Linked DNA regions of Homo sapiens: region 2 is linked to region 1. Evidence: fine-mapped expression QTL. A gene starts in region 1. The other region holds a variant in brackets. All regions are shown on one strand. Distances are from middle to middle.

Region 1 (2,922 bases):
TTCCAAATCACTCATTTTATTATTACTGGAAGTGGAAGTACACAAAGTATTATTCTGTCCCTTTTATTTTTAAAATTTCCTTTCATTTTATAAAAAAAAATCCCCTATTATCAGATTGATCCTCTTTAATATGTAAACCGTATGTATTTTCAGAAACATTTCCTTGGAAAGGAGTTGTTAAATAAAGAATCAAATAGTCTCATCTCTTAATAGTGTCTTTTTTTTTTTCTTTTGAGACGGAGTCTCGCTCTGTTGCCCAGGCTGGAGTGCAGTGGTGCGATCTCGGCTCACTGCAAGCTCCGCCTCCCGGGTTCACGCCATTCTCCTGCCTCAGCCTCCCGAGTAGCTGGGACTACAGGTGCCCGCCACCACGCCCGGCTAATTTTTTGTATTTTTTGTAGAGACGGGGTTTCACCATGTTAGCCAGGATGGTCTCGATCTCCTGACCCCGTGAGCATTTTCACAGATTGGTCGTTATGTCTTTTTATTTTCCTCTTCCTTTTCTGGATTGAGTCAACCCATTCACCGTCCTCCCTGAATCATCCTGTCCTCCATAAGACAACTTACAATATTTGCTATATCAAGAGCAGGGTGAAAATAGGTGATAGATTTTTCTCAAAGAAGAAAAAAATTTCGAGGTTTTACAAGAGACTTATCCCTTCCCATAATAATAACATTTTGTCTGTATCAGTACAGCCCTTCTATTTGCCTTATGACTTGCATTTCATCATCAGTAGTTAAAGCAGAGGAAACGTGGGAACCATTTACTGTTTCTGCTTATGGCCTCATCAACGGTTGCATCTGTTTTTTTGTGGATTCTTGGCATCCACGTTCTTGTGGATCTTGCAACAAACACATTATGGTAGGTAGCAGCAGCACTATCAGTTTCAGACGCGTCCACACCAAAATGGAATAAAAAGGTAATCGAGTCAAAGAAAGGTTGAGATCCTGTATTCCTTAAATTCGGTGTCCAGTACAAATCAGCCCAATTTCCTTTAAGTACCTGCATTTTTAGCGCACACATCGCTTCCATTCTGTAATTCTTTTCTTTTTTCTTCCTGTATTGCAAGCTTCTCTGTTCTCTCCTTTATGGGATATTTTCTTGGTAAGTAGGTAGGTAGGTAGGTAAAGTCCGCTTTGGTTGAGTTTATTTGGGTTTGTGTCGCGTTTGAAGAAAAATAAATTCAAACTCTAGGGGGAAGGCAGTAGAACTGGACTAGCAGTATAAAATTGGATGGCTAACCAAAAGAGAATAGTGACTATACAAATACTGACTATCCAAACGAGAAAGAGACGACTTAAGGGAAAGTGCTACCCTGCAAGAAATTCCGGGAATTGTCCAGAAGATCCACAGGGTCAGAGACACACGCGCCAGGAAAGGCGCCTTTCATGCACGGTCCGCTGGGTAAAACAGAGAAATATATATACGAGCTCTCTGTCTTTGGAAGCATTTCGGTTCCAGGAAGGGGGAGTTAAGGAATTCCTTTGGGACCGGCACATGTGAAATATCATCCAGGCTCTCAGCTTGGCACCCGGTACTTGCGTCCTAGGCAGGCAGATAAGTGGAGAGTTTTTCTAGGAATTCTGGGAAATGTAGTTTGGGAGCCCCGTGTAGTCGGGTAACTTCCGCTCTAGGAGGCTGAGGCCGTCTCCCTGATCCCGTCGGGAATTCTGGGAAGCGTAGTCCAGGAGGTCTCGGTAGGCAGAGCCACTTCCGCCCCAGGTACGCTAGGCCGCGGCCTTCGTTCCTCCCAGAAAGGTGAGCGCTCCCCGCCCTGCTTCCTGCTCCTTCCGTCCATACTGATGTTCGTTTTGTTGGGGTCCAGTAGCAACCGGGCAGTAGCTCTAGGGGAGGATAATCCACTTGCGGCGAAGGGCGGGATTTGTGTTATCTTTGAATGAGCCTTCTCCAGTGTGGGGCAGCTGGCGCATCCCCACTTAGCGCCGGGGGTCCAAGATCCTACATCGCAGGGACTGGGGATCTCCTGGGTTCTGTACTTCCCCAGCCCTTTCCCCTGACCATCAACCAGCTCTGCCACTTCCTAGCAGTATAATAACAGGCGAGTATCTTAATCTCTCTGCCTATGTTTCTTTTTCTTTAAAATGGTACTAGTATCTATCTAATGGAGTTCTTTTGAGAGTTAAATAAAAAGACTTGGAACAGAGCCTGACAGGTGGTAGAAGATGGGTCTCTTGTTATTAGCACTTTTTAATTTTCTGAGAAGGACTCAGTTCCCTGAAAGCTTCTGTGAACCCAGGATGGGGTCAGAGCTCCAGCTGCAGAGTATCCCTGGCCCTTTTCTGATCACTGAGAGATTTTTCTTTAGGACAGGATCACTCCTGGCTGTCTGGGTAGTCCATTGTAATTCATGCAGGAGTTCTGATTTCCCCCATCCTCCTTTCCTTCTTTAGCCTTGACTTCTTGAAAAAGGCTGCAGGGAGAAGGAGGGAATGACCCTTTGGCACTTGGCAGCGGAGTCTCACCTGAGTAGTACTTATCATCCTTTCTTTTCAGGGAAGACGATATTTCCATCATTCACTGGCAAATTCTGCTCGAAGATGCGCTGATATTTGTTCAATAAATGCAGAAACGGATGAGGGAGTACTTGGGCATGAGTAATAAAGATAGTATTTAAACATTTAGTGCTGATCATTCTAAGAGTTTGATATGAATTAACATCTTTAATCCTCACAAGAGCCCTTTGAGCCTGGGTTGGGTACCACCATTCCCATTTTAAAGATAAGCAAACAGACATAGAGCATAGGTGGTTTATCTTTAGGTCACCCAGGTGGTAAGAGCCTGAGCTGGGATTTGAATTCAAATAGTTTCCATCCATTGCCTTAGTTCTTGATGTGTTTAGTATCAGCTTCAGAACACATATTTGGATTTTACTAGAGGACCGTGAAAGCAAGGTTAATAAG
Region 2 (2,922 bases), 45 kb after region 1:
ACATATTGCAAAAAATAAAAAATATATATAATAGAAAAAATATCATAATGAACAGGCAAGTCACTTAAATAAAAGTTCAAATTGATAGTGAAAATATGTAAAGGTACCCAACCATGTTAGTAACTAGGGAAGTCAAAACTACAGCCAGATCTATTTTTATCCCTTAAGGTTGTCAAAGTTTTTTCTTTTTTTTCTTTCTTTTTTTTTTTTTTTTGAGACAATCTCACTCTCTTGCCCAGGCTGGAGTGCAGTGGCATGGTCTCGGCTCATTGCAATCTCCACCTCCCAGGTACAAGTGATTCTCATGTCTCAGCTTCCCAAGTAGCTGGGATTACCGTCATGCACCACCACACCTGGCTAACTTTTTTATTTTTAGTACAGATGGGGTTTCACCGTGTTGGCCAGGCTGGTCTCGAACTTCTGACCTCAGGTGATCTGCCCACCTCGGCCTCCCAAAGTGCTGGGATTACAGGTGTGAACCACTGCACCCTGCCAGGTTGTCTCAATTTTTTCAAGAAAATGTGGTGAATTTGCTACTCTCATAAACTGCTTGTGGGAGTGGAAACTAGTGCAATTGCTTTGAGGAATTAATTAGCAGTAGCTATCAAATGTTTAAATATGCTTACCACATGACCTAGCAATTGCAATTTTTCTGCCTCTCCCATGGAGAATGGTCACACCTCATAGGAGGGCATGAATGAGACGTTTATTGCAGCTTTGTTGTAATAGTGGAAAAATTGAAAACAATTTCTGTGTCTTTCATATAAACTGTATAAGCACATTTGCAAAATATTATATAGCATGTAAGATGAATGATGTTCTTTAAGTCTTACAAGGACACACATTCTACACATTTAAATACATATAAAAGAGTCCAGAATAAATAAATAAAATACAGAATAAAGAGTCCAGAATAAATAAAAATACAATAAAACAAACAAACAAAAAAGAGTCCATAAGAATAGATACTAAACTGATAATGGTCTCTACCTTAAAGACAGGGAATGGAGAAGAGTACTGGGCAGCTGTGGTGGTCGAAGGAGATTTTAGCTGTTATCTTTAGTATTATTTAAAAGAAAATAGTAGATTATGATTTTATAATTTAAAAATATTAATACTAATAATATCATTACTACTAATAGGGGAAATTGAGTTAACAAATACCCAGTGATATCATAGAAGTGGAAAATGCAATTTCTCAATCCAGAATACGTGGAAGAAGTATAGCTTAGCTAAGCGTGGTACCAAGAGAAATATGCACTGACTGGGTGATGCACCAAAGATTAGCAGCCTTTAGAGAAAGGAGCCTGCTGCCCAAAGAGAAGCATTGTTGCGGGTTGCATTCCCTGGGAAGTAGACTCTGAAATGGACAGTAGCACTCAGGTGGTGCAAATGTATTAGAAATATC[A/G]AGAAAAGTATAATTTGAAGTGGAGCCTGAAGATGTGACAAAATGGCTACAATTTCATGATAAAACTTGAAAGGATAAGGAGTTGTTTCTTAAGGATGAACAAAGAAAGTGGTTTCATGAAATGGAATCTACTTTTAGTGAAGATGCTGTGACCACTGTTAAAATGACAACAAAGGATTTCGAATATGATGTAAACCTAGGTGATAAAGCAGTGGCAGGGTTTGAGAAGACTGACTCCAATTTTGAGAGATGTTCTACTTTGGGTAAAATGCTATCAAACACCGTCACATGCTACAGAGAAATCTTTCATGAAAGGAAGAGTCCATCACGGGGGCAAACTTCATTGTTGTCTTATTTTAAGAAATTTCCACAGCCACCCCAGCCTTCAGCAACTACCACCCTGATCAGTCAGCAGCCATAAACATCAAGGGAAGACCTTCCTCCAGATAAAAGATTACACAACTCACAGAAGGCTCAAATGATTGTTAGCATTTTTTATCAACAAAGTATTTTTAAATTAAGGTATCTACATTGCTTTTTTTTTTTTTTTTTTTTTTTTTTGAGACAGAGTCTCACTCTGTCACCCAGGCTGGCACGATCTTGGCTCCCTGCAACCTCCGCCTCCCGGGTTCACGCCATTCTCCTGCCTCAGCCTCCCGAGTAGCTGGGACTATAGGCGCCTGCCACCACGCCCGGCTAATTTTTTTGTATTTTTAGTAGAGACGGGGTTTCACCGTGTTAGCCAGGATGGTCTCTATCTCCTGACCTCGTGATCCACCCGTCTTGGCCTCCCAAAGTGCTGGGATTACAGGCATGAGCCACTAGACATAATGCTATTACACAGGTAAATGGTATGTTTACAGTATAGTATAAACATAACTTTTATGTGCAATAAGAAACCAAAAAATTCATGTGACTCACTTTATTGAGATACTCATTTTATTGCAGTGGTCTGGACCCAAACCTGCAATATCTCCCAGGTATGCACATATTAAGAAAACTTTGATCAAGTAAGGTGGTCATGCCTGTAATCCTCTGCACTTTGGAAGGCTGAGGTGGGAGGATTAAGATTGCTTGAGGCTGAGAGTTAGAGACCAGCCTAGGCCACATAGGAAGACCTCATTTCTACCAAAAAAAAAAGTTAAAAAATGATCCAGGCATGGTGGTACATGCCTGTAGTCCTAGCTACTCAAGAGGCTGAAGCAGGAGGATTACTTGAGCCCAGGAGTTTAAAATTACAGTGAGCTATGATGATTTCACCAGTGCGCTCCAAGGTAGGCAACAGAATGAGACCCTGTCTCTAAACAAAATACTTTCTGCCCTGAGGTTCGTAAAGGTATTAGCCCATATTATTAAGTGGTGTAATTACTTCTGAAACTAATTACTCAGTGTTAGGTCAAACTTCACAGTTCAAGTGCACAGTGCTCAGAAGACTTTTTTCATTCCAAACTGCAAGTTCAAGGGTTTCCATGCCACCCTCACTTCTGACCAGCTGACCACTTCTGATCACTAAC

What was found. PIP is the estimated chance that this variant, and not a neighbour inherited with it, causes the effect.
Region 2: its variant is the best candidate, but not a certain one, in a credible set for the expression of ZNF112 in esophagus muscle (GTEx, PIP 0.69).

Annotation. Positions count from the first base shown.
Region 1 is chr19:44,355,463-44,358,384 of GRCh38, reverse strand. ZNF112 (zinc finger protein 112) reads left to right here and starts at 1,705. Exons shown (of 4, transcript NM_013380.4): 1 at 1,705-1,759. RefSeq lists an enhancer at 1,396-1,896.
Region 2 is chr19:44,310,640-44,313,561 of GRCh38, reverse strand. No RefSeq gene overlaps it. Among named protein-coding and RNA genes, the nearest start is that of ZNF235, 7.1 kb to the right of the region's middle. The variant A/G (reference allele first, on the strand shown) is at 1,409.